Linked DNA regions of Homo sapiens: all the other regions are linked to region 2. The links come from fine-mapping of genetic effects on gene expression. A gene starts in region 2. Each other region holds a variant in brackets. All regions are shown on one strand. Distances are from middle to middle. Region 1 overlaps GAS7 (growth arrest specific 7). Region 2 holds the start of GAS7 (growth arrest specific 7). Region 3 overlaps GAS7 (growth arrest specific 7).

The links. PIP is the estimated chance that this variant, and not a neighbour inherited with it, causes the effect.
Region 1: its variant is fine-mapped to the expression of GAS7 in whole blood (INTERVAL, PIP 0.99).
Region 3: its variant is fine-mapped to the expression of GAS7 in lung (TOPMed, PIP 0.96).

The regions. Positions count from the first base shown.
Region 1 is chr17:10,108,741-10,119,227 of GRCh38, reverse strand. All of the region lies in intron 1 of GAS7 (growth arrest specific 7), which reads left to right. Among named protein-coding and RNA genes, the nearest start is that of GAS7, 85 kb to the left of the region's middle. RefSeq lists enhancers at 1-370, 901-1,430, 1,431-1,960 and a silencer at 3,915-3,974. The variant G/T (reference allele first, on the strand shown) is at 5,837.
Region 2 is chr17:10,193,790-10,204,276 of GRCh38, reverse strand. GAS7 (growth arrest specific 7) reads left to right here and starts at 5,671. Exons shown (of 14, transcript NM_201433.2): 1 at 5,671-6,069. The coding sequence starts at 5,887.
Region 3 is chr17:10,011,192-10,021,678 of GRCh38, reverse strand. It overlaps GAS7 (growth arrest specific 7), which reads left to right. Exons shown (of 14, transcript NM_201433.2): 2 at 1,782-1,902. Among named protein-coding and RNA genes, the nearest start is that of RCVRN, 110 kb to the right of the region's middle. The variant C/G (reference allele first, on the strand shown) is at 4,333.

The sequences.
Region 1 (10,487 bases), 85 kb after region 2:
CTGATTCCCTTTACCATGTTCTATTCCCCCGATCACCTTCTGACATTCTTTAGAATTCACTTTTTTATTGTGTTTAGTGTCTGCTCCCCGCAACCCATTCCCACCTCATGCTGGAGCCGTCACTCCAGGAAAGCAAGGGTTTATTTCCCTTCTGCTTTTTTCATTGATGTGCCCCCAGATACTTAGAAACAGCGCCTGGTGCATGGTATATGCTCCATAAGTATTTGTCAAATGAATGAATGGCTGAAAGTGCCCGGAAGGCACTCAGCAGTGCCATCTGTCCCTGGGGACAGATGTAAGAATCCTCTTACAGTGCATGTCACCATGTGGCATGTGTACGTTGTGCTGGTGTCCAGTGGGAGGGGAACACTTGCCTCCTCTGGGAGGTGCTGCACAGGCTGGCCACCTGCGCTGGGCCTGCTTGGTCCTCATGGTTAACTGGGCCCCGGGGGTAGGACCACCCCCCTGATAAGTTAAGACAGCCCAGAGATACACAAGGGCTTTTTTTTTTTTTTTTTTTTTTGGAGACAGAGTCTCACTCTGTCCCCCAGGCTGGAGTGCAATGGCGCAATCTCAGCTCACTGTAACCTCCGCCTCCTGGGTTCAAATGATTCTCCTGCCTCAGCCCCCAGGGTAGCTGGGACTACCTCCATCACACCTGGCTAATTTTTGTATTTTTAGTAGAGACGGGGTTTTACCGTGTTGGCCAGGCTGGCCTCAAACTCCGGACCTCAAGGGATCCACCAGCCTTGGCCTCCCAAAGTGTTGGGATTACAGGCGTGAGCCACTGCGCCCAGCCCACGAGGGCTTTTTGGAATTGACTGGCAGGGCAGTGAGGGCCCCCAGGGCAGGCCGGAGAGGCTGACCAGGTAGTGAGTGGAGCTGTTCACAGATGAGGATTTTGAGCCTGTGGTTGGGCTGCATTCCAGAATCCAGCTGTGCTCCCATGACTTCCTTCCCACCTTATGCGCTGTGAGAAGCGGAAAAATACCTGGCTGAGAAACCGAGGGCTCAGGCGATATCCCTGTTTACTCCATCTCTATCATCTTGTCTTGCAACGAGTGACTGACTTAGAAATGTAATCCGGGATGGTCTTGGCTGTCTCCACGCCCTGGAGAGCAACAGGGTCCTGGTGCTGCCTGTTACCCTCGGGGAAAAGTGCAGACCCAAGTAGGTCCAGCTGTGTCCTTGACATCTCCACTTGTCCTGTCCAGGACGCAGTTGCCTAGCCCAGGTCTGGGCTACAGTGGCTTCTCACAGCTCAGTAAATGGCTAGTTTGTCCTTCCAGCCGCTGGAGGCAAAAACCTTGACTCCCCTTTTTTTCTCACATTCCACATTCAGCATGTTGAGAATGCAGGTTGGCCCTTCTTGCAAAACAGATCTTTAAACACAGGATCACTTCTCACCACCCTACCACTGTAGCCTTGGACTGAGCCACAGCTGCCACCACAATGCTGCCGGGCTGTTGCAGGCGCCTCCTGGCTGCTCTGCTGGTCCCTAGTCTGTTGTTTTCACAGGAAGGGTCTGAACACATCGTGCTTCTGCTTACCACAGTCCAGTGGTGCCCCATGTCGGCAGAGTGAAGACGCGGAAGCCCTACAGTGGCTGATGAGGTGCTACATAATTGGGTCCCCATTGCTGTCCTGACCTCAGCACCTGCTCCTCCCCGTTGGTCTCACTCCTGTGTCACTCCTGCCTCTGTCCTCCGCCTTCCGTGGTGTTTCTTTAAATGTTCCAGGCATGCTTCCTCATCAGGGCCTTTGCAGCCCAACTCCCTGTGGGGGCTGAGTAATGGTCCCCTGAAGATGTCTACCTTCTAATCTCTGGAGCCTGTGAATATGTTACCTTCTGTGGCAGATGGGATTTTGCAGTTGTGATTAAGTTGAGAACCGGAGATGGGGAGATAATCCTGGATTATCCACGTGGGCCCAGTGTAAGCCAAGGGTCCTTATGAGAGGGAGGCAGGAGGGCCAGAATCAGTGTTAGGAGATGTGATGTTGGAAGCAAGAGGCTGAGTGACGAGAGGAAGGGGCCGAAAGCCAGGGAAAGTGGGTGGGCTCCAGAAGCTGAGAAAGGCAAAGAAATGGATTCTCTCCTAGAGCCTCCAGGAGGAACCAGCCAGCCCTGCAGACATCTTGACTTTAGCCCTGTGAAACCTGTTTCAGACTTTTGACCTCCAGAACTGTAAGATAATAAATTTTCATTGTTTGAAGCCCGTTAGTGTATGGGAATTTGTTACAGCAGCCTCAGGATATGAATAGACCTCTTTATCTCCTTTCAGTCTCTCACTCACTCTGGCAGGTCCACCCCTTTGCTCTGTTTTTTCTTTTCCCCCCCTCATCATTTATCACCTTCCAGCAAAACTGGATCATTGACCTGTCTGTCTGGCTTGTTGTGGGTTGTGTATCTCCCCTGCTAGAATGTAAGCTCCCTGAGGCATGGATCTTTGTCTTGTTAACTGATGTATCCCAGTGTCGAAACCTGCGTCTGGTGTATAAGAGGTGTTCAAGAAACCTGTGTCGAATAAATAAATGAATGAATATGAATGAATGATTCCTTGGTCTGGAATACCTTCTCTTCCCATTGTCTCTGCCAGCTGCCCTCTAAGTCCACTTCAGACCCACTCCCTACCCGCAAGAGCTCTCCTGTAAGTGACTTCCCTGGCAGGATGCGGCTGGTGCTATCTGCTGGTCACCTTTCCTGAGCACCCAGTGGCTGTGAGCAGCCCGGCCAGTTGCAGAGACCCGCTCAGCCCAGGGCACTCTTCTTCAGCTTGCATTCCCCGGGGTAAGCCCTGCAGCAGCCAGGTACTCTGGAGAGTATTCATTTTGTTCCATGCATTTCTTACAGATGAGCACTGTCAGAGTCTAAGGGACCCAGCTGATCTCTAAACCCAACATTTTTTTTTTTTTGAGGCAAGAGTCTCACTCTGTCCCCTAGGCTGGAGTGCAGTGGTACAATCTCAGCTCACTGCAACCTCCGCCTCCTGGGTTCAAGCAATTCTTCTCCTGCCTCAGCCTCCTGAGTAGCTGGGACCACAGGCACACGCCACCACACTCGGCTAATTTTTGTACTTTTAGTAGAGATGGGGTTTGGCCATGTTGGCCAGGCTGGTCTTGAACTCCTGACTTCAAATGATTCACTTCCCTTGTCTTCCCAAAGTGCTGGGATTACAGTCGTGAGCCACCATGGCCGGCCAACCCAACCTCATTTTGATGATGATCTGGAGAGGTGAGGGGTCCCACCAAGGTGCTGAGCAAATTTCTAGGGCTTCTAAGTCTCAGAAGTCCTGGTTGGATGATCTGTTTGGGAGAGCTCCTTCTCTCCACTGCCACCCCCAGGGACAGCGTGCCTCACTCGTAGAAGGTACTAAGAATTTGCCTGGATATTGGAGCTTTGGAATCTGTCATGGCTGGGGAGGTTGGTGAGTGGGGCACGGTTTTAAGGGAAGGTATAAGGTTCTCCCCAGGGACTAGGGGCGGGGGAGACCAAAGGATTTGTCTTGTTGTTAACAACAGTAGTATGGAGGATGGGGAGTTTGGAAAAAGGAAAGGAAGAAAAGACAAGAAATGGTAATAAGTATGGGCAAGAGTTGTGTGCCCACAATGGACACCTCATGCTAGGGGACCCCCAAGTGTATGGACACTGCCAAGAAGGGGCAAGGAGGGATGAGAGAGGCCTTCTCTGTGCTGAGGTGTGCTTCCCCGGGGCACAGCTGCAGCCTGTAAAGGGTGAACAGTTAGGAACACTTCTTTCTGCTGTCTTCTCTGGGGAGGACACGTGTTGCAACACTTCCTGAGTTGGGGAGGAGGTGACACTTTGCCCCCCACCCTCCTTCAGACTGCTGATGAAGTGTGCTTAGTTATGAACCTACAGCTGTGTTTTTGCAGCGTTCCCCCCGCCTGTGCACCCGCCAGTCCCACGGGGGGCTCCCCTCCCTCCTTCCGTCCCTGGTCCTTCCCTCTGCTGGCTGGTGACTCACTCAGCTCTTGTGCAACAGCCCAGGCTCTCGCTCAGAGAAGAGCTGTTTTCCTCCATCCCATAAGCCCCCGTCCTAATTTATGTCTTTTCATTTGGGTTAATGCTTTCCACATTTAGGTCTGGAGATTAGCGTGTGGCTCATTGATGCAACCACCAAAACCCCAGTGCCAGCTTGGGTCTGGCACAGAGAGGCAGCCAGCCAGCCAGCCAGACAGACAGACAGACAGAGGACAGCTTGGAGCATGACCCCCAGCCTGTTGGTCTGCAGCTGGCCCAGCCCTGCCAGCCACAGAGGCAGAGCGAGGAGGCAGCCCTGACTCCTGGCTTGCCAGAGAATCATTCTCATGCCAGTTTCCTGTGAAGGACACGCATCTTGGAATGGCGTGAAGAGGAGATTGCCCCAAGCCTGTGACTTCTCATTGAGGAAACTGTGTGTCGGGAAGTGAGAGGCACAAGTTCTAGGGTGTGGAAAAATGCGATCTCTGTGGCTTTCAAAGCTGTCACACAACACAGTGTGTGTGTGTGTGTGTGTGTGTGTGTGTGTGTGTGGTTTTTCTCTTCTCTTTAGAACAATAATATTACCTTTGTTGCTATGGTGTTGTTATGGGGGTGGCTAATTGGACACAGCCCTGATGCTGGCTGGTGTGTGGTGTCCATAGTGATTATCAGACGGCAGCCATGGGACCTGCTTTGATTTTCTTCCCTGGAGTGAGAAGCAGGCAGAGGATCACTCGGTGGCTGTGTATACCCTGCCTTTGGTGGTGGCACCCCAGTCAGAAACGGGACCCTGAAGCTGGGATTTAGGTAAGGGGAGGACCTTTCCAAGGCTTGTTTACAGCTCAGATTTGCAGAGGACCAGGTATTTGGGAACTCCTCTTCTGAAGAACCAGATTGCAGGGCAGGGCACAACGAGGGGCCTGTTGCATCTTGGGAGCACAGGGCTGTGTGCTCTGGTAACCTGGGCCCACTCACCTGGCAGGCACTGGCTTCCTTCCCAGTGAGACTGTAGCATTGACGGAAAAGTGCATGGTGGCTCATGCCTGTAATCTCAGCACTTTAAGAGGCTGAGGCAGGAGGATTTCTTGAGCCCAGGAGTTTGAGATCAGCCTGCGCAACATAGGGAGACCCCCATCTCTACAAAAAATAATGAAAGAAAAAAAAAGATTAGCCAGGCGTGGTGGTGCATGCCTGTAGCCCCAGCTACTCGGGAGGCTGAGGCAGGAAGATCACTTGAGCCCGGGAGGTTGAGGCTGCAGTGAGCTGTGATCACACCACTGCACTCCAGCCTGGGCAAGATAGCAAGACCCTATCTTGAGAAACAAAAGAGACAGAAGTATGTTTGGTCAGTATGTATACCCAAAAGTATATCTGTTAATTTTATACTTATCAAATAGGTAATATATGCTCAGGTCTGATATCTGAAAGGTACAAAAAACGTAGAGTGAAAAGTTGGTCTCCTTCCCATCCCTGTCCTCAACCTATCAGTTCCCTTCCCGAGTGGCAAACAAGTGATCAGTTTCTTGTGGGTACTTCCAGAAGTAGTCCAGGAATTTCCAAATATGTTTCATTTTATTTTCCTTAACCCAGGAAACCGTGTGTCGGGAAGTGAGAGGCACAAGTTGTAGGGGGCGGAAAAATGCGATCTCTGTGGTTTTCTGAACACAGGTATCCCCTCTATACTTCTGCACCTTGCTGGTGCTACTGATGCTTTTTGTTAAATCATATAACATATCTTGGAGTTTAGTCAATAGGAAGAGCTTCCTCCTCCTGTTTAATGCCTGCCCCACTCATTTCACCAATGGGCATAAAGGTTGCTTCTAATCTTTCTCTGTTACCTTTACCTGTTGCTGCTGT[G/T]GATAGCCTCGTATATCCATCATTCTGCACGTGGGTGAGGGTCTCTGAAGGGCAAGTTTCTGAGGTTGAAAGGTTGGAACAAAGAATATATGTGTTTGTAGTTTTGACAGAAAGGGCCAGATTGCCTCTAACAAGACTGTTCTAGCTTACACTTCTGCTAGCAGCGAGTAGGAGTGCCTGCTTTCCCATAGCCTTGCCAGCATCGTGCACTTTCAGATTTTTTTTTAATTTCTGCTTGGAAAAGTTTGTCTTTACTTTCTGTTGAATTTCTCTCCCATGGCTCCCCCACTCTATTGCAGCCTCCCATGCAGGCAGTGAGTGGATGGGGTCCCTCTCTGCTTCCCTGGGCCATAGGGAGTGGACCCTCAGAGGACCCTCTGTCTTGCAGATCGTTGGGTGGACTTGGTCTAGCCTCTCTGCAGGCCAGTCGGTTGTTTTACATATAGATCTTAAGGGAAAGAATCCTTTGCAACACTTGAATTTTCTACTTGTGATGACACTACTGGACTCTCTTTTCTCTTTTCTTTTTCTTTTTTTCTTTTCTTTTCTTTCTTTCCTTCCTTCCCTCTTTCTTCCTTTTCTCTCTCTTTTCTTTTCTTTCTTTCTCTTTCTCTCTTTCTTTCTTTCTTTTTTCTTTTCTTTGTTTGTTTTTGAGATGCAGTTTCACTCTCATGGCCCAGGCTGGAGTGCACTGGTATGATCTCAGCTCACCACAACCTCTGCCTCCCAGGTTCAAGCAATTCTCCTGCTGAATTCAGCCTCCTGAGTAGCTGGGATTACAGGCATGTGCCACCATGCCCGGCTAATTTTGTATTTTTAGTAGAGTTGGGGTTTCTCCATGTTGGTCAGGCTGGTCTCGAACTCCTCACCTCAGGTGATCCACCCACCTCAGCCTCTGAAAGTGCTGGGATTACAGGCGTGAGACACCGCGCCCGGCTAGACTCCATTTTCTACATGCTACTCCTATTATCTTTTCCTACTTCCCTCCTCTCTCTCATCTCCATCTGCCCTACCTTGCTCCTGCCTGAGTCTTCCTCTTGTTTTCCAGTGTTCTGTGTCTTCTGCCTCTCCCTTTCCAAAGATAGAGTCTTTTCAGTGAAAAGCCCCACACGTGGGCAAACACCCCTGGAAAGCATCCCTCGCTGTGTGTCTTCGGTCACGTGCTCGAGGATGCATCCACGGTGGAATTGGATGCAGTGACAGCATTTCTCTGCTCCCAGGCTTTTCTAAGTCAGGGAGCTGGAGGTGAAGCTGTAGCAAAGAATGCCTGGAGAGATGCCCTCAGGCAGCACAGCCCAGTAGAACTCTCTGAGGATGGCAATGTTCTACTTTTGTGACGCCCAGTACGGTAGCCACTAACATGTGGCTGGTGCAACTGCGGAAGTGGTTCTTTCATTTGGATTAATTTATATTGAGGGGCTGTATGTGTCCACTGACTACCATATGGGAGAGCACAGGTCTAAACTGTATGCTTTTAGCATGAAAATAAGAGTCTAAGAAGCAGAGTGTATCTGGTCTAGGTTTCCTCAAGTCGAAACACGGCAGCAGTTCTTCATCAGGGTATCCAGGCCCCATGACCTGGTCCAATTTTGGAACTCCCGAATTTCGCCTATTGGAAACACAATTGGGGTTAGGCTGCCAGACCCACCAAGGAGGGTCGCAATTCCCTTGGAATATAGGCCTCCCTTAAAGACTTATTTATTTATTTAGAGACGGAGTCTTGCCCTGTCTCCAGGCTGGAGTGCAGTGGCGTGATCTCGGCTCACTGTACCCTCTGCCTCCTGGGTTCAAGCGATTCTCCTGCCTCAGCCTCCCAAGTATATTTCTGGTTTTTTGTTTGTTTGTTTGTTTGTTTTTTTGAGACAGAGTCTCACTCTGTCACCCAGGCTGGAGTGCAGTGGCACAGTCTTGGCTCACTGCAACGTCCGCCTCCCGGGTTCATGCCATTCTCCTGCCTCAGCCTCCCAAGTAGCTGAGACTACAGGTGCACGACACCACGCCTGGCTATTATTTTGTATTTTTAATAGAGACGGGGTTTCACTGTGTTATCCAACATTGTCTCAATCTCCTTACCCATCATCCGCCCACCTCGGCCTCCCAAAGTTGTGGGATTACAGGCGTGAGCCATTGCGCCTGGCCATTTCTGTATTTTTAGTAGAGACGGGGTTTCACCATGTTGACCAGGCTGGTCTCGAACTCCTGACCTCAAAGGATCCTCCCATCTCAGCCTCCCAAACTGCTAGGATTACAGGTGCCAGCCAAGACACCCGGCCCCCTTAAGGACTTTTGATATCCATAGATGTACACAGCAGTTACTGACCTACAAGTTGTGGACACCAAAGCAAACTAGCCCTGTCTAAATAGAGCATCTTGTGTTATTTTACTTTTTAATCGACGCGTAATGTTTTACATATTTATGGGGTAGATGTGATATTTGGTTGCATGTATAGAATGTATAATAATTGATAAGTCAGGGTATTTGGGGTATCCATAACCTTAGCGTCAGTCATTGCTGTGTGTTGGGAACAAACATTCTTCTAGCTGTTTCAAAATGTGTGATATATTGTTGCTAACTATAATCCCTCTGCTCTGCTATCCAACTTTAGAACTTGTATCTTCTGGCTGGGCGCAGTGGCTCATGCCTGTAATCCCAGCACTTTGGGAGGCTGAGGCGGGCAGATCACTTGAGGTCAGGAGTTCGAGACCAGCCTGACCAATATGGTGAAACACCGTCTCTACTAAAAATACAAAAATCAGCCAGACGTGGTGACATGCACCTGTAGTCCCAACTACTTGGGAGGCTGAGGCTTAGACAGGAGAATTGGTTGAACCCGGGAGACGGAGGTTGCCGTGAGCCAAGATTGCGCCATTGCACTTCAGCCTGGGTGTCACAGCGAGACTCCGTCTTAAAAAAAAAGAAAAGAACTTATATCTTCTGTCTAACTGTATGTTTGTACCCCTTAACCAAACTCTCTTCATCCCCCCTCTTTCCCACACACCCTTCCTAGCCTCTAGTTAACTATCTACTCTCATCTCCACGAGAGCAACTTTTTTAGCTCCTACATATCAGTGAGAACACTGATCTTTGTCTTTCTATGCCTGGCTTATTTAACTTAACATAATAACCTCCAGTTCCGTTCATGTTGCTGCTAATGACATGATTTCTTTCTTTTTCATGCTGAATAGAATTCCACGGTGTATATATACCGCATTTTTTTATCCACTTGTCCATTGATGGACACTTAGGTTGATTCCATAATTTTGCTATTGTGAATCATGCTGCAGTAAACGTGTGAGTACAGGTATCTCTTTGATATCTTTTTTTTTTTTTTTTTTTTGAGACGGAGCCTTGCTGTGTCGCCCAGGCTGAAGTGCAATGGCACAATCTCGGCTCACTGCAACCTCCACCTCCCGGGTTCAAGTGATTCTCCTGCCTCATCCTCCCGAATAGCTGGGATTACAGGCGCCCACCACCACGCCCAGCTGATTTTTGTATTTTTAGTACAGAGGGGGTTTTACCACGTTGGCCAGGCTGGTCTCAAACTCCTGACCTCATGATCCACCCGCCTCTGCCTCCCAAAGTGCTGGGATTACAGGCGTGTACCACCGCGCCTGGCCCTGTTTTTGTATTTTTAAGTAGAGACGGAGTTTTGCTATGTTGGCCAGGCTGGTCTTGAACTCCTGATCTCAGGTGATCCACCTGCCTTGGCCTCCCAAAGTGTTGGAATTACAGGCGTGAGCCACTGCTCCTGGCCTGATGTCTTTTGATATCCTGATTTCTTTTTGTTTGGATAAATACCCAGCAGTGGGATTGCTGGATGGTATGGTTGTTCTATTTTTAGTTTTCTGAGAAGTCTCTGTACTGGTTTCCCCAGTGGCTGTACCAATTTGCATTCCCACCAGTAGTGTACAAGAGATCCCATCTTTCCTCATCCTTGGCAGTATCTGTTATTTTTTATCTTTTTAATGATATTTTTTATCTTTTTAATGATAGCTGTTCTAACGGCTGTCATTAGCAGCAACATGAATGGAACTGGAGGTTATTATGTTACCTTAAGTTAAATAAGCCAGGCATACCCGTTCTAACTCTGGCGTAAGATGATAGCTCGTTGTGGTTTTAATTTGAATTTCCCTGGTGATTAGTGATGTTGGGTATTTTTTTATATGCCTGTTAGCAATTTGTATGTCTTCTGTTGAGAATGTCTATTCATGCCCTTTGCCTACTTTTTAATGGTTATTTTATTTTTATTTATTTTTATTTTTTTAAATTTTTTTTGCTGTTGAGTTCCTTGTATATTCTGGCTATTAGTCCCTCATCAGATAAATAGTTTTCAAATATTCTCTCCCATTCAATAGATTGTCTTTCCACTTTGTTGACTGTTTCCTTTGCTTTGTAAAACCTTTTTAGTTTAATATGGGCCCATTTGTCTATTTTTGGTTTTGTTGTCTGTGCTTTTGAGGTCTTAACTGTAAAATCTTTGCCTAGACCAATGTCCTGAAGTGTTCTTTCTAGTAGTTTTATAGTTTCGAGCCTTAGTTTAAGTCTTTAATCCATCTTGAGTTGATTTTTGTATATGGTGAGAGATAGGGGTCCAGTTTTATTCCTCTACGTATGGATATCCAGTTTCCTCAACACCCCTGATTGAAGAGA
Region 2 (10,487 bases):
GAGCTGTTGTTGAATGAAATAGCACACATGAGTTGAAAAAGATAACTCTTGTTGGGTGATGAAGATCATTATGAATTTTGATTTTTGCTCAACACTAACAATTTTTTGAGGTATAATTTATATGCCCCGAATTTTACTTGTTTTATGTGTACAGTTTCGTGACTTACTGTGTTGTGTGATCATTACCACAAACTAATTTTAGAACATTTACATCGCCTCAGAGAAACCTTGTGTTTGTTTCTTTCTTCCTTGTTTGCAGCTCCAACTCCAGGTGACCACTAATTTTTAAATTGTGTCTATGGATTTGCCTTTTCTGGACGTTGCATATAAATGGAATCATATAATACATTGCCTTTTGTGTCTGGCTTCTTTCACTTAGCACAATGTCTTTGAGGTTCATCCATGTTGTAGCGTGAATCAATATCTCCTTCTCATGGCTGAGTAAATATTCCATTGTATTGGCATACTACATCTTGTCTATCTATTCACCAGCTGATGGACATTTAGATTATTTCCACTGTTTGACTTCTGTGAATAATACTGCTATGAACATTCACTACAAGTTTTGTGTGGACATATGTTTTCATTTCTCTTAGGTAGATGCCTCGGAATAAATTGCTGGGTCATTAGGTAAATTTATATTTAACTTGCTTTTTCTTCCTTTTTCTTTTTTTTAGACAGGGGCTTGCACTGCTGCCCAGGCTGGAGTGCAGTTGTGTGGTCATGGCTCACTGCAGCCTCGATCTCCTAGGCTCAAGTGATCCTCCCACCTCAGCCTCCTGAGTAGCTGGGACCACAGGGATATGTCACCACGTCCTGTGGCTAAATTATTTTATTTATTTTCTATTTTATTTTATTTTTTGTAGAGACAGGGGTCTTACTATGTTGTCTGGGCTGGTCCTAAACTCTTGGCCTCAAGGGAACCCACAGCCTCAGCCTCTCAAAGCATTGGGATTACAGGTATGAGCGACCACGCCTGGCTATGTTTAACGTTGTAAAGAAATGGAAACCTTTCCATTTCTCTGCCATCCATAGGCTGATAGAAAGGTGTATAAGGTTGTCTTGGGTAGAAATGAAATACCAGCCACCACATAACTAACAAATGCACAGTGTCTAGAGAAAGCTCTGACACAGGTTTATACAACAACTTAGCAAGTAGAAAATCTAAATATGAACAGGGTCCAAACAATCTATGCAAAAGATCAAGAAGTACTGAATGCCTGCTTTTTGTATGAGTCAACGTTAGGCTTTAAGAAGGATAGATAGGCTAGGCATGGTGGCTCATGCCTGTAATCCCAGCACTTTGGTAGGCAGAGGTGGGTGGATCACCTGAGGTTAGGAGTTCGAGACCAGCCTGGCCAACAGGGCGAAACCCCATCTCTACTAAAAATACAACATTAGCCGGGCGTGGAGGCGCATGCCTGTAATCCCAGCCACTCAGGAGGCTGAGGCAGGAGAATCACTTGAACTTCGGAGGTGGAGGTTGCAGTGAGCCAAAATCATGCCATTGCACTGCAGCCTGGGTGACAAGAGTAAAACTCAGTCTAAAAAAAAAAAAGATAGATGGAAATTTAAAACAAAGATGCTATCCCTCTCCTGAGTTACTAACAGTCTAACCAGTAAAATAAGACTTAATAATAATTATTATTTTTTTAAAAAGCAAAAGTAGGCTAGGTGTGGTGGCTCACGCCTGTAATCTCAGCACTTTGGGAGGCCGAGGCGGGCAGATCACGAGGTCAGGAGATTGACACCTGCCTGGCTAACACGGTGAGACCCCGTCTCTACTAAAAATACAAAAAATTAGCCGGGCGTGGTGGCAGGCGCCTGTAGTCCCAGCTACTTGGGAGGCTGAGGCGGGAGAATGGCATGAACCCAGGAGGCGGAGCTTGCAGTGAGCCGAGATAGTGCCACTGCAGTCCAGCCTGGCTACAGAGCGAGACTCCATCTCAAAAAAAAAAAAAAAAAAAAAGCAAAAATAAATTAGCCAGGCATGGTGGTGTGCACCTGTAGTCCCAGCTAGCTTCTCTGGAGGCTGAGGTGGGAGGATGGCTTGAGACGCGAGGCAGAGGATGCAGTGAGCCAAGATCACACCATTGCACTCCAGTCTGGGCAATACAGCCAGATCTTGTCTCAATTTAAAAAAAAAAAAAGCAAAAATAATTAAAGATTTAAATACAATTTCAAGATAGTAATATAAATCAGAGAGGGAGAAGGCAGGAGGGAAAATTGATAAGGGAGGAATTTATCTTTCCTTCAAGATCCTGGGAGAAAACAGAAAGCCAAAGTGTGTTTCTACAAAATTTGTGGCATCCCAAAGATGTAAGAGTTCCTCCTTCTATTGTTGCTCTAGAAATCTTAGTTAAAAAAGAAGTGTTACGTAATAAATCACCAGGACCCTTGAACTGGATAGATAAAAACAATCGCTAACATAGGGGCATTTAATGTGCCAGGCACTGCTCTAAACAGTTTACATGCTTCCTCACTTAATCTTCTTAATAACTCTATGATATTAATACTACTGTTGTCTTCTTGTAGTGATGAGGAAAATGACGCTCAGAGACGTAAGTAAATCACCCAATGCCACACAGCTAGAAAGTGGCAGAAATGGGGTTTGAATAAAGGCAGTCCAGAGCCAACATATTTAACCACTAACTACATTTAACCATTTAAATTCCCATATTCCAGTTACTGGATTCGATCTCCAATTACAGACGGGGAAATAGACCCAAAGGTATGGGAAGACTTGAGGATTTGGAGGTTACCTGATTGATAAGAGATCAGCAACAGGAGTTCCACTAACTGCTAGTCCAGTCTTATTTCTATGAAGACTGACATTGGGTATCACCAGAGAGTCTTTTCTTTTCTTTTCTTTTCTTTTTTCTGAGATGGAGTCTTGCTCTGTCGCCAGGCTGGAGTACAGTGGCGTGATCTCGGCTCACTGCAACCTCCACCTTCCAGGTTCAAGCGATTCTCCTGCCTCAGCCTCCTGAGTAGCTGGGATTACAGGCACGCGGCACCACACCTAGCTAATTTTTGTATTTTTAGTAAAGATGGGGTTTCACCATGTTGGCCAGACTGGTCTCAATCTGCTGGCCTCGTGATCCGCCCGCCTTGGCCTCCCAAAGTGTGGGGATTACAGGCATAAGCTCTCACAGGCTGTGCCCAGCCTAGAGAACTTTCTCTTAAGATGCTATTTGTGGGTGAGTCACTAGGATACCTGCTTTCTGACTGGCAGGGGGGACGACAGAAAGCAACACCAGTGTACAATAAGCTAGAATTGAGTTCAAAGCTGATTCTGCTGTTGACCAGCTGTATGATGGTGAGCAAGTCACACTCTTTGAGCCCAGTTTCTTTACCTGAAAACTGGGACAACAGTCACCTCATCAGCTCGTAGGATTACAGGAATGAAATGAATTAAGTGGAGAAATTAACAGCTATTATCATTTTTGGTTGCTGCAGGAATGTTTGAGGTGGGTCAGGTAGAACTCAAGTGTATGGCATGCTGTGTAGGCTGCGATTTCTCAAGTCCAAACTGGATCACAGTTCCTCACGGGCATGCAGAGAATTAGGGTTGCAGGATGGCTGGAAATCAGTTGTCCTACCTTGATTCAGGCCACATCATCAGGAATGAAGCCTCAGAACAGCCTGCTGGAAGTCACATATTTTCCTGATACAAGGAATTGTATCTCTTTTAAAACTTCATTGGGCCAGCTATTTTTAATGACTGTTTTTGATATGAAGTTATGCAGCTCCGCTTTAAGGGACTCTTAGTGGTGACTGTGGTCAAGAGTTTGTTTCTTTATATTTCCGGCCAAGCGAATGTTCAAGACTTTGCAATTGATGGACTATTACAAATAATCTGCTTGTGTCACTTTGCCCATGGCCAGAGAACAGATGGAGGCTGCTCAGGTGAGATGGCTTAGCTGCAGACTAGGGCTCAGTAGTGACTCTTAAAACCTGGGCATGAGTATTTTTAAAAAGTTGCATAATGACTGTAATGTGCAGCCAGGATTGAGAACCATTGAACTAGGTGAAAGGCTCTGTGCCAGGGTCTGATTCAAAGCATAGACAGGTGCGCAAGATCTTCAGGCTCTTGGAGCCCGGCCTGACTGGTTTTGTAATGGATATCTAGGCAGTCATAGTAAGAGGTGAAGCTAGAGGAGGCGTTGTGGAGGGCCTGAAATGTACAGGCAGAGAAGTTTGTACCAAATTTAAAAGGCAATAGGGAGCCACAGAAGGTGACTGGGGGAGGGGGGAAGGAGTAGACAGAGGTATACAGGCGTATTAAAGGGTCCAGCTTTTTTTTTTTTTGAGACGGAGTTTCACCCTTGTTACCCAGGCTGGAATGCAGTGGTATGATCTCCGCCCACTGCAACTTCCACCTCCCGGGTTCAAGCCATTCTCCTGCCTCAGCCTCCTGAGTAGCTGGGATTACAGGCACCCGCCACCACGCCCGGCTAATTTTTGTATTTTTAGTGGAGATGGGGTTTCACCTTGTTGGCCAGGCTGGTCTTGAACTCCTGACCTCAAGTGAGCCATTCGCCTCAGCCTCCCAAAGTGCTGGGATTACAGGCGTGAGCCACCGCGCCTGGCCGAGTCCAGCTATTTACAGGCTAAAAAATGTACTTTATTTTATTTCTTTAAAATTTTTTATGGAGTAGACTAGCAAAGAAACCAAGCTTTCTTTTACTTCTGTACGGTCAGTTCAAGGTCAACATTCTGCAGCACTCAGGTTCACTGGTCCCTGGAGAGCAGGGACTGGCCCAAATGATGTTTGTAGTACCTGGCACATCGCATGGAACATGGCAGCCTCCTGGTAATGTTTGTTGACTGACTACATGAGTGTAGACTCTTTAGCCAACCCATCTCGATTTCGGGAGGGCTGGTACCCTGGGCCGGCCTTCCCTCTGCAAGTAAAAGCATTGGTGCTGTTCCTCTCACCGTTCGCCTTTCCTCCATTTATCCCCATCGACTGTTTCCAATTCTATCAACTCCGACCCCGTCTTCTCTCCATTCCGTCCCTCCAGCGTGCCACGCTGCCACCAGGCTGCTGGGCTCAGGCGCCAGGCTTCAAACCTGTCTTTCACCCATTGTTCAGTTTCCGGTGAGACAAGTTCAACCCCAGGTTCAACCACTACAATGACAACCACAAACGATCCCTCGCAGACACCTCGAAGAAGCCGCCCGCACGCCACGGGCCGCCAGGCCTACAAAGCAGGCACAGAACAGAGGGGCGTTTCCATTCCCGCGGTCCCCGGCGGTGGGGGCGCGAGTGGGAGCCCCTCTCCCCAGTGACAGGCCCCTCTGCGAGGGAGCGCGCAGCCCTCCGCGGGCGTGGCCGCCCTGGCCCCGCCCCGGCCCGCCCCCTCGCCAGTGAGCTAACCCCCGCCCGGCCACCCGGCCGCCAGCTCCTCTCCACGGCCGCCCGCCGCGGAGTCCTGCCGCGGGGGATGCTCCGGGTCCCACCTCCCGGGGGAGCTGCGCATTTCCGCGCGCCAGGGCGGCCCCGGCCCCGGTCCCGGCCCCGGCCCCGGCCAGCCCTCGCGGCGGCAGCCCGCGTTCCGCGTTCCCGGGAAGTTGTCTCCGGAGCCCGCGGCGCCTGGGTCTCCTCCCCCTGAGCCCCGCCCCCCAGCCCAGAGCTAGGATCCGCGAGCTGCCCGGCCCGGGGGCGTCGCCGCTCGCTCTGCGAAGCCAACGAGTCTCTGCTTCCCGGCGCGGAGCGCGCGTCCCCCGCCTGCCTGAGGACCCCCGCGCACCCCAGAGACGGCGCGCGCCCAGAGCGCGGGAGCCCGGAGCGCCGGGCGCCTGGGACCCCGCGGAGCCGCTGCCCAGCCCGTGGGGCTCGGCGGGAATGCAGGCTGCGCTGTGAACCCGGGCGCCAAGGCCATGTCCGGCGCTCGCTGCCGGACCCTGTACCCCTTCTCCGGGGAGCGGCACGGCCAGGGGCTGCGCTTCGCCGCGGGCGAGCTGATCACGCTGCTGCAGGTCCCGGACGGCGGCTGGTGGGAAGGCGAGAAGGAGGACGGGCTCCGTGGCTGGTTCCCGGCGAGCTACGTGCAGTTGCTGGAGGTAAGGGGCGAGGGCCGGGGCTGTAGGAGCCGGGGCTGCGGTCCTCGGTGCGCTCGCGTACCTGTTGCCCGTTCCGGGGATGCCGCAGCGTCCCGGTCGGAGGGGCGCCCCGGGGGGCAGCCCTTGCCGGCGCTACCTGTAGCTCCACGCTCCTGGGGGGCAGCGACGGCAGCGGGCGCCCCTCGGGGCGTGGGCAACGCGGACTCGCGGGGAGCTTCCACCTTGCGCCGGGCCTCCGGAGCACACCGTGGCTGCTCTGAGGAAGCGAGAACTTGTTGCCTGTGTGAGTTAAGGAGCAGGCGGGAGCGTTCCCGGCAGTGGCAGGGGCCGGTGAAGGGTCTGGCGGTCTTGGGAAGAGGCACGGAGGATCAGGGGTGCGAGAAAGTGGCACCGACTCGGTCCCGCAGCCCCGCGTCTCCACCCCGGAGTCTAGAGCCTGATGACCCGTGGACGGTCGTGCTGCCTTGGGTCAGGCTGCCTGGCCGCCTCGGGACCACCCACTTGCTGGTCAGCCGAGCCTGCTGGCCACCAGCCCGAGCCCCCTCAGCAGGCTTGATCCTGGGGTGCCGTAGCACCCCCCGCCACTGCCTGCTCCCCTGGTCCAGCTCCCCGAGGCTAAGGCTCAGAACCCGAAAGTGGCTTGTTCCTGGGGTTCTGGCCTGGCCCCAGGGCTGCACAGGACCTGCTGAGGCAAGGCGGCTGGCTGTTTATTGTCTATGTGACAGGCTGTCCTCTAATCACTGAGCTCGCAGTCACAGCCTGAGTGAGACCCGAAGTTTCTAAAGTCCTTTGTGTGTGGGGGGGTGACCTTCCAGGACATCCCCTTTACTAGAAGCCCGCCTGCCCCCAGGATTCTTGTAAAGACTAAATTAACAGTTACCTTCAATGGTGTCAGTATTCCTAAACATTCTGGTAAAACACTGCCGGAAGAAATCATGGAGGCTGAATTTATTTATTATTTAACTCTTGACCTACTTCACAGAGAAAGTAGCAAATTTTGACTGAGAATGCTCAGTGCAATTCATCGGGGGCGGGGGGAAGAAAGAAAGAAGTGAAATGGTTACAGGGTGAGTCCGCCTGAGGATGTATCCTGTGGCAACATTGTCAGCAAGAGCCTGGCCTTATAAAAGTACATTAGATTGCTTTCAGGTCCAGAGAACAACAAAATCTCTCCTAAAGGCATCAGTAGCATTTGAGCAAAGTTTAGGGGCTGCTGGAATGAGCTTTCATGGGCTGTCAGCAGAGTATGTTGCAGGAACCCTCTTGGTTCTGTATCTGGAGAATCCGGAGATACCCTACTTGTAGGAGAGGCTCAGGTGTGCCCTGCCCTGGCTTTTCCAGTTCCTTTCCCGAGATTCGGATGTAAAAGAAAGCGAACGTATTGCTTCTTACATGAGAAGCAAGGGGCCTCCTTGTTTCTAGCTTGAAGCCCTGGGATAGATACGTATTTTGGGAGTTCTTCGGGTGGTCACCCTTTTCCAGGAAATTCTGATGTGGAAATTTGGCTGATGGATGTCTGTCCGGTGAGGAGCATCCCTGGCTGGACTGAGCCAGCTGTGTTTTGTGTAGGGGTGAGGCTGGGTAGGTGTTAGTTAGCAAGAGTGGAGTGCTGCTTTTTCTTCCGGGAAAGGGACGATGGACCAGGGCCAGGGGACAAGCGGAATTAACAACTGGGACAGTTTTGGGTGTGTCTGTCCCATCCTCTGGCATATACAAAGGTAAGAGATCTCTGGTGTCTCAGGGCCTCTCAGACCATTCCTGACTAGTAACTTGCAACAGAAGCATCCATCTGCGTGAGCAATACTTCTGAGCACCTGCTTGGCACAGTGTGTGCACGTTATCACCAGTTCCCTGACAGCTCTGTGAAGGGTGAGGTACTTCCCCCATTTTATAGACAAGCAAGCTGAATATGAGAGAGGCGAAGTCAGCTCCCCAACTAGTAATGCTTGCGTGTTTTGTTAGCAGCTCAGATGACTGAGTATCACCCCCTGCGCCTGTGCCTTTTTTAAACATGATAGCCCGGGCTCAACTATGCCAAACAGCGTGTGAGCGAAGGGTCTGGATCCATGGGGAAAAGGGGCATGCGCAGCCCCTGAGGTCAGCATGTTGGTGACAGCACCGCGAAGGGGAGGCTGAACCTCTAGGGCTAAAACGAGGACAGCTGCATCCAGGAGCAACTTGGAGGATCTTCCCTGCTAACCCCAAAGTGTGACTTTACTCAGAACCAGCTGGGGGTCTTCCCACAGTGGGCCCGAGTCCTGTATCCTAAGTACTGGGTGGGACTCTTCTCAGGGCCAAAGCAGATGCAGTTTCAACAGGGGGGCATGTGGGTCAGGTGCTTGGCATCTGGGAACCTCCTACATGAGCAAGTTGGACCTCAAGGCTGAAGGCTAGGTAGAGATAGAGGACATGCAAGCAGAGTTGCTTGGGATGGGGTGAGTCCTGAAGGGCAGACTCAGAGAATGCAGAGGTCCCCAGGCTGGTGGGTAGACTGGCCAGCATCTGGACTCATGAGACTAGAGAGGGGGCCCATAGATACTGGAGATGGCGAACCTCATGAGATGTCAGCCAATGTGGTGCTGTCACTCAGCTTGCTTGGGAGCATGGAGTTCAGAAGGCCAGGGCAGCTGTTGGAGAAACAAGTACAGACAGATGGACTGTACTAGCCTCCTGGCCTAGGGATGGGATTGTGGGTACACAGATGAATATGGCATCTCTAATGTGCTCCCTACTCCAGCGGAACTTTCACCCTGATAGAAAGAGTGATACTAGGAAACCCCATCTTGGTGGAGGGGAGGGAGGCACTGAATACTGTGTGCACACTGGATACTTCCCAAGGAGATCTTCCTTGTTCAGATGAAGCAAGGGGAACCGAGAGACCCAGCCTTTGCAGGAAGCATACACGGGGGAGGGGAGTTGGGAGCTAACTCCAAGAGAGTCACCAGATCTGACCCAGTGGCCAGCTAGCCCTTGGGAGGAGGCCAGCTTGGAGGAGGTCTTGGTTTTTGGGGCAATCTCTTTGGTCAAGACTCCAAGGAAATGGTATAGCACATACTTGGCTTCCAGAGAGCAGCTTCCAGGAAAACCTCAGCACAGGCAGGGAAGTGTAGAGGTCTCTGGTAGGCCCAAGGACTCTGGCCACAAGGGTTCTTCCTACTCGGGGTGGTGCAGCTCTTCAAAGGATGGGCAGAGGGAAACACCTACCTCCAGAAAAGGAATAGGCCTTACAGCCAAGGCCCACAGCTGGTTATTAGATAAAATCAACTAGAAAAATCTTTCCTGAGGGTTTCTTCTGCTATGACGAGGGACAGGAATTAAGAAGTCTTTTTTTTTTTTTTTTTTTTTTTTTGAGACAGAGTCTCGCACTGTTGCTCAGGCTGGAGTGCAGTTGTATTTTGAGTAGAGGTGAGGTTTCGCCGTGTTAGCCAGCATGGTCTCGATCTCCTCACCTTGTGATCCACCCGCCTCGGCCTCCCAAAGTGCTGGGATTACAGGCGTGAGCCACTGTGCCCGGCCGAGAAGTCTTTTTAACATCATTTGAGAGATATGGTAGAGGAAGAGACCTGAGACCAGAGATAGGAGCTGTGGGAGCATGTTCTGCCAGCTCCAAGCTAGGCCTGAGATTGCCTCCATAGACCTGGGAACCCCACATGTGGGAATATTTCCACCAGCTTTCTAGGGTACATCAAGGCTGAGAAATAGCTCCTGGGGAAGGTGGATAGAGAATCCTAGATCTCCATCCTGGGGAAAATTTGGAGAGAAAGACATGGTACCAGGACAAGCCCAGTGGCTGGACAGGTCAGTGGTTGGAGGGTTTAATAGGGTCCAGGAATTCCTGTGGCCTGTACTTTCCTTGAATGGAGAGAAGAAATTAGGGACCTGGGGAATGTTGTAAGGCATCTACAAAACTTCCCAGAGCTTTTGGGAAATAATTCTGGGGGACAATGGGATTGGAATGCAAACAAAATAGAGCTTTCTTTGAACTAGGTGGTATTCTTAGAATCCAGGATCTGGCTGGATAATCTGGACCTTTTCTCTTTCCTAAAAAGAGCCTTTTCCTTTCTTTCTGGGTTACTAACAGAATATGACACTGTTTGCTGGCACAACTAGAATGGCTGCTGAGGGTCACCGTTAAACTTGATTTTCTTCACTCTACCCTTTGTTCTCCCATTTTGGGTTCATGCAGTTGTGCTGCAGGAGTTGATAAGGAGTGTCTGTGGGAGAGAGTGGGCTGTGCTATGGATAATTAAGGAATGATGTTTTATCTATTGCCATGTAACAAGCCACTCCAAGATTTAGTGTTTCAAAGCAACAATTTCTTATTATCTGGCATGGTTTTGTGGATTGACGGGGCTCAGCTGGGTGGTTCTTCTGCTGGTCTGTCTCAGTGTCTCTCATGCAGTTGCAATCAGATGGTG
Region 3 (10,487 bases), 180 kb after region 2:
TGGTGGGATGCCACACCGTGTTGATCCTGGCTGCTGTCCACCTCACTGTCTCCTGCTGTCTTAGAAGACAGTCTTCCATACGGAATCAAACGGGCACTGCAGGTTAGCAGGTGTAGGAGATGGAGCGTCCAGGGCATAGGGGAAAGCTTTTAATTAAGTTGTGAAAATGCATTGTGAAACTTACACCGCAGCTACGCAGAGGGCAGAAGGGAGGCTGTGTTTACTCAAAGTCCCCGAGCAGCTCAGATTTACTCGTTCCCTCCAATGACATGCAGGGCACTACGGGAAGCCACGGCACGTGGTTTTGCAACCTTCACAAAGCGTGAGAGTAGCCTGGGAGCTGTGTGTCTCTGCTGCTCTCTTTCATTCTGTTATCTTGTTTTCCTAAGCGGGGGTCACCAGGGACCACCACTATGGGCACAGCTGGGGGATACTGAGGACATTTGGGAGCCGATTACCTTTACTGTTTGTGAACAGTCCCCTGGCTTTGCTGAGAAATTCATGGCTACTCTCTTCGTATGGCTACAATTCTGATTTTAATCAATTTACTTCAAAAGGCACAGCAATCTTACGGGCTAATTTGGACTCTCTGTCCTAATTTTAAAATGTTCTTTAGCTAACAACTTTTATTTCTGTGTTTATGGGAGAAAATTTAGGGGGAACAGATATGTAGAAAGGAGAGTATAATAATTGCCTGTAATCCCAGCACCCAGGGATCGTGGCTGTTTTTTGTTTGTTTGTTTTTATATTTTTGTTTGTTTGTTTTGAGATGGACTCTCACTCTGTCACCCAGGCTGGAGTGCAGTGGTGCGATCTCTGCTCACTGCAACCTCCGCCTCCTAGGTTCAAGCAATTCTCTTGCCTCAGCCTCCCGAGTAGCTAGGACTACAGGCGCACACCACCACGCCTAGCTAATTTTTTGTATTTTTAGTAGAGGTGGGGTTTCACCGTGTTGCCCAGGCTGGTCGCGAACTCCTGAGCTTAGGCAATCCGCCCGCCTCGGCCTCCCAAAGTGCTGGGATTACAGACGTGAGCCACTGCGCCCGGCCATGGTTGTTTTTTTTTTAGCATCTGTCTACTAGATATCTAGTTTCTTTGTATGTCATATACATTTTTCTCTGATTTGTTTTTTAACGAAAAGTAATTCTATACATGGTTAAAAGAATTAATTGCACATAAATGCATACAATGGGAAGTCAGCGTCTGCTCTGTCTCCGAGTCCTCGTTCTTTTTGCCAGAGTGATCTGGACCCTTGGCGAGAGAAGCTCCATCCAGCTCTTCATGGATTCTCAGCATTATTATAGAATGTTTTGCATCTGGCTGTGGGATGACTTGCATTAATTACTTCTGCTAGGTTTGCACAGCAAGCCTGGGGCCTTGTCTGCTGCTGTGCTTCGTGGTCTGGGAATTTCAGGCTTCAGATTTCACAATGGGAGGTGGTGGAGTGACAGGGCCCCCTTGCAAGCTCAGCACCCCGTGAGTGATTTTCTAGGGGGCCGTGGAGAAAGTCTAGCTCCATTAGCTGAATGGCATTTTCCTCTCTGCTCCCAGAGGAGCTGTCCTCTGTGCAGGGGCTCTGAATGCTCAGGTGCTTCTCACTGCTCATGCTCACGCAACCCCGGAGGTCACGTGTGTGCTGCCTCTGACCTCAGGGGTTTATGGGCCGCAGACTTCCCAATGTCACGCTACTGTAGGGTGAATTCATCAGCCTTTGCCTTCCTGGTTTAAAAACTCTTGCAAAAATGCCAAATGGGTGTGACCTTTTCTTTCTTCTCCAACAGAAGCCTGGAATGGTCCCCCCTCCGCCGGGAGAAGAAAGCCAGACGGTCATCCTTCCACCTGGCTGGCAGAGCTACCTGTCGCCTCAGGGCCGGCGGTACTATGTCAACACGACCACCAATGGTGAGTCCCGCTCGGGGGAGAATCCTGCACCAACCCCCTGGCATTCTGGCTCTCTAGAGGGGCACGTTTTTTCTCCCTTCTTCGCCTCTCTGTTTGGGGGTTTTTTCTTCTTAAGTCTATGCTCAGGGGCTACAGTAAAGTCTTACTCCTCCCACTGTGCTGGGTGGTAGGGGTGCAAGTCTGGGTCTGTAGTTCTGGGAGTATCTTGGAAGGAAGGCTGCCCTTTATGGTTTGAGTCTTCCTTGGACCCTGACGTCCACCCTGGGTATCTGTGTTAAACCCAACCTGTTCGTCTGGGGCTGGGTTTTCTGAAGGGTGTCTCAAAAGGTTCTATGGTCAACAGCTGGCTTGAATAAAATGAACGAGGCAAAGTCACTGCATGATGTCTTGGAATTTTGAAGGTTTTAATGATCTTGAAGCTTCAATACAGGGGTTGCAAATGCGAGGTTTCCCTAATTTCACTACAACGTCATCTTTTTCCTTAAGTATCTCACTGGCTGGCATTTCTCCAGATGTTTTTTGGGAAATGCCGGGGGTGCTTATGGGTTATTTATCCCATCAAATAGTACAGGTTCCATGTGCATCTGAGTTGAATAGGACCACACCTCAATGACCCCAATAATTAGGGACCTCCCAGGCCTTCAAATGACCCCAGGATCCCCAGAAGTTTGCTGTGGATGGTTTATAAAAGGGGATGCACCACGTGGCAGGTTCTGTAACAAGGTGAGCAAAGGGCACTGTTGCAGGCTGTGGTCTTGGGCAGGGCAGGACAGGGTAAACCAGCTGAACAGAGCTGTGTCTTGACCTCCGTGACTCCCCAGAGAAATTGCCATGAGAGAACTGAGAGGATTTAAACCAAGGAAAGTTAGATTTAGTGGGAATCACAGACATGCGTTCCAAGGCAAAAGATGAAAATCGTACCCAAGTCCACTGCTGGCTCAGCCTTGGCCTCTCACTCCTCTGTGCCTGCCTGACTACATGACCACCCCTTCCCACCTGGGGGTATCGTTACTACAGCTGATGTTTATAAGCCTGCACCAGGAGGGGGTCCTAGTGACAGGGGAGCCAGCTACTGTTTAGCAGAGACACAAAGAAGGCAGCTGGTTTATTCGTATCCCCTGGCAACCTGACCTTCCACAGGCTCAAGAGGGGTGTTCTAGCGCAAGAGGTAATGAAGTTTCTAGGAAAAGGGAAGTAGGACTATTTCTGACCGTTCTAATCTTACACTTCCTCAAAACAAACACATGAACAGCTTTGCACTGTTACCGGAGACTTGAAATTTCAGAGGAGAGTGTGTCTATGTATGCAACACCCATCTGCCAAACACAGAATTTGGACCGTAGGATCATGAGATCATCAATTATTTGGGACAACATTGGATCCAAATTATTGGAAGGTCAGGTTGCTAGGGGATATGAATAATTTGGATCCGTTATTGTCCCAAATAAGCTACTCTATTGCAAAGGGGCATGGGGGGAAATGGCTTTCTGAATTTCAGCATCTTTATCTTTTTTTAAGTTAGAGACTAGTTTGTTTTCACGGTAAAAAATTCAGTAAGTACAAAATGATTTCAAATAAAAAATAATCCCCGGTCTCACCTTTTAAACATATGTATACTTATTCTTTTAAAATAAATTGGAAAATATTGTCTATGTTGTCCTTTAAGTTACTTTGACAGTGTATGTGGACATCTTTCTATACTTTGTACATTTCAGTCTAACCCATTCTTTTAAACAGCTGTGTAGTAATCCATCGCATGGGTATGCTATTAATTTCACCTGCACTCTATTAATTTAAGTCATATTTTATATCAATAGACAGTGTCTGGCAGCTTTTTTCTGGGACTCAGACTTTAGCAGATGCCACTGGTGACAGCTTTCTTATGGGTCCTGAGATATTGTGATCCCACAGAGGCTCCAGGCCAGGGGTCAGTGAACTTTTTCTGTAAAGGGCCAAGTAGTCAGTATGTAGGCTTTGAGGGTCACATGGTCTCCATCCCAGCCACTCAGCTTTACTGTTTCAGCATGAAAGCAGCCCTGGATGATAGGTAAACAAATGAGTGTAGCTGTGTTCCAATAAGACTTTATCTATGGATCCGAAAATAGGAATTTCAGATGACTTGTGTGTGTTATAAAATATCATCGTTCTGGCCAGGCATGGTGGCTCATGCCTGTAATCCCAGCACTTTGGGAGGCCGAGGCAGGTGGATCACTTGAGGTCAGGAGTTCCAGACAAGCCTGACCAACATGGTGAAACCCCGTCTCTACTAAAAATATCAAAATTATCCGGGTGTGGTGGCGGGCGCCTGTAGTCCCAGCTACCCGGGAGGCTGAGGCAGGAGAATCGCTTGAACGCGTGAGGTGGAAGTTGCAGTGAGCCGAGATCACGCCATTGCACTCCAGCCTGGTGACAGAGCAAGACTCCGTCTGT[C/G]TCAAGGAAAAAAAAAAAAAAAAGTGGAAGATGATTTTCGTTGGCAAGTTCACTGGGCCATATGATAGTTGGTTTGACCAGTTGGTCCCTTGGACCATAGCTGCTGGTCCCTGCTTCAGGCTGTCTGTTGGCTCCACAAGGACTTGTCCTATTTGCCCTTCCTCTCTTTATTTATTTATTTATTTATTTATTTATTTATTTATTTATTTATTTTTTTAGACAGGGTCTCACTCTGTTGCCCAGGCTAGAGTACAGTGGCACAATCATGGCTCACTGCAGCCTCAACCTCCTGGGCTCAAACACTCCTCCCATCTCAGCCCCCTGAGTAGCTGGGATTGCAGGCATGTGTCATCACGCCCGGCTGATTTCTTTATTTTTTTATATTTTTTATTTATTTGAGACAGGGTCTCACTCTGTTGCCCAGGCTAGAGTGCAGTGGCACGATCATGGCTCACTGCAGCGTTAACTTCCTGGGCTTAAGTGACCCTCCCACCTCAGCCTCCTGAGTAGCTGGGATTACAGGCATGTGCCACCACACCTGGCTTTTTGTATTATTATTATTATTATTATTATTATTATTATTATTATTATTATTTTTTGTAGAGATGTTTTGCCATGTTACCCAGGCTGGTCTTGAATTCTTGGCCTCAAGTAATCTACTGGCCTTGACCTTCCACAGTGTTGGGATTACACTATGCCTAAAAACAGTTTTTTTTGTTTTGTTTTTTTTTTTTTTTTTTTTTTGGTAGAGACAGGGTTTCAGTATGTTGCCTAGGCTGATCCCGAACTTCTGGCTTCTACTTCTGCTTCCCAAAGTGCTGAGATTATAGGCATGAGCCACCGTGCTCGGCTCTCTCCTCTTTTATGCTAAAAATAATTCCAGCACCTACCTTGGTCTTACATTCTAGATATATGCCAGTTTTATTCATTACTTGTTTAACTCTTTTTTTTTTTTTTTTTTTGAGACGGAGTCTCGCTCTTTCACCCAGGCTGGACTGCAGTGGCGCGATCTCGGCTCACTGCAAGCTCCGCCTCCCGGGTTCATGCCATTCTCCTGCCTCAGCCTCCCAAGTATCTGGGACTACAGGTGCCTGCCACCACACCTGGCTAATTTTTTGTATTTTTAGTAGAGATGGGGTTTCACCGTGTTAGCCAGGGTGGTCTCGATCTCCTGGCCTTGTGATCCGCCTGCCTCGGCCTCCCAAAGTACTGGCATTACAGGCGTGAGCCACCGTGCCCGACCTTAACTTATTGTTTATCTGTTTGATTGAATCATTCCTTCAACACATAGTTTGAGCCTCAAATATGTACCAGGCAGAGTGAGTCTTGGGATACTGGGGATTTAATAAGAACAAAGTCTCTGCCCTGCAAGTGTTTATCTTCTTATAGTGGGAACAGATTTTAAGTGAAAACCTATTTGATCAATCAGGAAAGGGTTGTGAAGCAGGAGTCCAGGGTGTTTTAAGAGCATGTCACAGAGAGACCCTGGGGAATCAGGGGAGGCTTCCTGGAGAAGGAAGCTGCAGGATGGGAAGGGTAAGGAAGGGCTAGGGGATGGGGAGTGTCTTACTGATGGCAAAGAGTCAGCTGTGTTTGTAGGGATCATGCAGCCCATGAACATCATATTAATAATTTTGCTCGGCAGTCTAAGGGAGAAGGAAAGCAGCTATCTTTCTGATTCTCCTCTGGAATCGTTTCTTAGACTTGTTTTGTTTGGCTGTAGGGATGTTTTAAATATATTTTAATCTGCCTGCCTTTCTGCAGGAAGGCATCTATGAGAATAGCCACTCATGTTTTTCTTACCTCCTGACTCCTGGAGGCACCTGAGCTTGTGCCTCCTCACTGCTGGGCCAGCTGCATCTATCTGCCTTTCTGCCTGGCCCCTTGCTTAAGCATCTTTGCTCTGTCGCTCTCCAGGTGGCATTTCATCCACATGCTAGCCCAGTGCCCAGAAAGTGCAGTCCCGGTTCTAAGCAGGCCATTCTTCTCTTCCTCTTTGTCTGTCTACCTTTCTTCCAGACGCTTCTAGTCTTTCTCCCTTAATCCCTAATCTCTTCTTTTCCAGAGGGTGCCTGGGGATAATAGGTGTTCTGTCCCCATTTTTACACCTATAACCAGTTGAAAGTCTAATTTACATTTGTATTACCTTGCCTTGGCTAATCTGCTTCTTTTCTTTTCTTTTCTTTTTTTTTTGAGACAGAGTCTCGCTCTGTCGCCAGACTGGAGTGCAGTGGTGCGATCTCGGCTCACTGAAACCTCCGCCTCCCCGGTTCAAGCGATTCTCTTGCCTCAGCCTCCTGAGTAGCTGGGATTACAGACATGCGCCACCACACCCAGCTATTTTTTTGTATTTTTAGTAGAGACAGGGTTTCACCATGTTGGCCAGCATGGTCTTGATTTCCTGACCTCATGATCCACCCCTCCTCAGCCTCCCAAAGTGCTGGGATTACAGGCGTGAGTCACCGCACCTGGCTGGCTAATCTGCTTATTTTCACATCCATTTAGGATTTTATGGATGAGGTTGTCACTGTGCTAGCCACTGAGCCGGGCTCTGGGGATCCAAAATCAAACTAGATGCTGTCTGTGATCTCAGAACCTGCAGTTCTAATAGGGCCAGAGACACATATAAACCTATAAGTGTTACAGGTATTCGTGTGGAAATCTGGGGGCTCGAGGAAGGGAGTAGTCAGCTTGATCTGGGTATTAACCAAGTCTTTGCAGGGGGAGGGGGCGGCCTTGACTCAGGCATTCCAAGCCAAGGTTACAGCATGAGTAAAGACCAGGCAGGAGAGAAAAACAGCGGATGTGTTTGGCATTGGTTAAGGAAGAAAGAGGTGAGAGAGAGAGTCAGGGGCCTTGGGGCATTTTGAGGAGTCAGGTCTTTATCCTGTAGGCAGCGGGAATCCATGGGAAATTTCCAGGCGGTGGCGTGACATGATCAGAATATTGTGGCAAGGCTGCTTGTGCGGCAGAGCGAAGGCTTTAAGGCCGGTAAGCGTGGAGGCCGACAGACTAAATGAGAGGAGAAATAATGAGGTCAAACACCAATTCTACAGCAGTGGCTGGAGAGGAGGAGGTAGAATCTGTCAGACAGGATGTGGCTGTGGCAGGTCAGGGATTGGAAGTGCCTGGATTCCTCCGGGTTTTCTGCCTTGTGTGATGGGACCATACAGTGAGTATAGGGTATTCAAGGGAGGAACAGGTTAGGAAGAAAGAAAAATGAGTCCATGCTGAGTGTGTGGTTCCCTGGGGTGCGTTCTGGGAGAGATGGCTGGCATTTGGATGGCTACGGTGTGACTTAGAGGACTTCTGAGCTAGAGATGGGAACTTGGTGAGCCATGTGGGTACATGGCCTGGCCACTGTTGCGCAGTGACCAACCTGCCCAGCCACAGAGGGTGGCCCAGGATTTGTGTTTCATCAGCAGAGAGGTGAAGTGATGAGGATGTAGAAGATCACCCGGGGCCTTGCAGCACAGGTGTAAGGCAGCAGCCAAGGAGACCTTGAAGGAATTGTCAGAGATACAAGGAATCCAGGAGAAGGTAATGTCATCAAAGGCAAGGGAGAATAGATAGGGAGGGGTAGTCAGGGACAGACTGAAATATAGATCAGGTTTATGATAAGAGTGTTGTTTTAAATCACTGGGGAAAGCATGGATTATTTAGTAAACGGCGTTGGGCCAGATGGCTAACAGGAAGTTTCAGTGGTTAATGCAGTAATGCCGTTGCTTTCATATAAACTTGCCAATGCCATCAGAGCATGCTCCGTGGACTTTGGGAAGTCCCCATCTTTCTTGTGGCTCTCTGGAAATTTCATCATGCAGAGTGGCCTTCAGTTCAGCCCCAGGAACTCCCAGGGTTTTGGTATCAGGAAATTGCTTGTCTTGTGCTGTCCAGGGAAGCTCTCCATTCCCACCAAAAGTTGCCTGTGTTGCTAACGGTTTGGGATAGTGAGCTATTATCAATAGCCTACCCCATCCAGGGACCTCAGCTAGTGTTAAGGAGACTGTCTTAGTCTGTGCAGGCTGCACTAACAAAAAGCCATAGACTGGATGACTTATAAACAATGGAAATTTATTTATCACAGTTCAGGAGGATGGGAAGTCCAGGATCAAGGTGCTGGCAGATTTGGTGTCGGGTGTGGGCCTGCTTTCTGGTTCATAAGAACAGCTGCATTCTGACGTGGTGGAAAGGACAAACAAGATCCTCTGGGTTTCTCTTTTTTTAATTTTTTTTTTTTTTTTTTTGAGACAGAGTCTCGGTCTGTCACCCAGGCTGGAGTGCAGTGGCACGATCTCGGCTCACTGCAACCTCCATCTCCTGGATTCAAGCGATTCTCCTGCCTCGGCCTCCCGAGTAGCTGGAACTATAAGTGCCCGCCACCACGCCCGGCTAATTTTTTGTATTTTTTAGTAGAGACGGGGTTTCACAGTGTTAGCCAGGATGGTCTCGATCTCCTGATCTCGTGATTCACCTGCCTCGGCCTCCCAAGGTGCTGGGATTACAGGCGTGAGCCACCGCGCCCTGCCTGGGTTTCTCTTTTAATGGCACTAACCCCATGATGGTGGAGCCTGCATGACTTAGTCACCTCCTAAAAGTGCCGCCGCTTCATACTGGCACATGGGGAATTAGGTTTCAACACGTGAATTTGGAGGGGACACAAACATTCAGACCACGACAGGGACCTCTTATTTATACAACAAATAATTATATTTCAAGAGATATAGCACAACATTTTTTGCTCCATTTATGATTGAAAGGTCGGCTGGGTGTGGTGGCTCTCACCTGTAATCCAGCACTTTGGGAAGCCGAGGTGGGCAGATCACTTGAGCCCAGGAGCTCAAGACCAGCCTGGGGACCATGGTGAAACCCCGTCTCTATTAAAAATACAAAAATTAGCCGGGTGTGGTGGCGCACACCTGTAGTCCCAGCTACTTGGGAGGCTGAGGTGGAAGGATCACTTGAGCCCAGGAGGCAGAGGTTGCAATGAACCGAAATCACACCATTGCTCTCCAGCCTGGGTGACAGAGCAAGCCACTGTCTCAAATAAATAAATAAAATAAAAATATAACTGGAAGGCCAGGCATGCATGCTTCTTCACTTAATATAGTCATAGGTATTCAGGCCCTCTTTTTGGAGAGATGCTGACCTTTTAGATATGTTTAGGATACATTTTACCATTTGGACATTAGGGATATTTGAAGCCAGTATAGATAGATGGCCAAGATTAGTTTAGTTTAATGTATTAGTCAAGATTTTACTTCTTATTTATTAATCTTTTTATACTCTAAATCCAGTAGTTTTATCTGTGCCATTCTTTTTTTTTAAACAAAGAGTACCATTTGAGATGGTATCTTTTGTTTTTTTTTTTTTTGAGATGGAGTTTCACTCTTGTTGCCCAAGCTGGAGTGCAATGGTGCAATCTCGGCCCACACAACCTCCACCTCCCAGGTTCAAGCGATTCTCCTGCCTCAGCCTCCCTAGTAGCTGGGACCACAGGCATGTGCCACCACGCCTGGCTAATTTTGTATTTTTAGTAGAGACGGGGTTTCTCCATGTTGGTCAGGCTGGTCTCGAACTTCCGACCTCAGGTGATCCACCCGCCTCGGCCTCCCAAAGTGCTGGGATTACAGGCATGAGCCACCGCACCCGGCCTTGAGATGGTATCTTAACCCTTTCTCCCCCACTATAAAGCAGAGCCTGATGCAAGGATTGAGTGTTAACACCTTATTTAGGAGGTATCAGTACAAAGTGGTGAGGGTAGGTATGCAAGGGAAGGAAAGCCAAAGAACAATGCCAAGTGATGCTGGCTGGTGTTTGACAGTGAAATGCAGAGTCCCAGCCGGTCACTTAGTGGATATGTTCACTTCTGGAAGGGCTGCAAGGAGGAGCCGTAGCCTGGAGTAGTCTGCAGGAAAGCAGAGATGTTTTATCTACTCACCTCTGTCTTGTCTCCTATTTCACACTGGCCAAGCCCCTCCCCTTGCACAGCTATTTCCCTACACATTTGGTTTGTACCATCTGACTCCTACCAAGCTCTCAGAAAGCCAGATTCCACCATGCAGAGTGATGCTTCATCCAAGCCCAAGGCAGTGGTCAGCAGAGCATGAGTGAGGTACCAAGCAAAACAGAAGGTGGCTGTTGATGGAACTATGAAG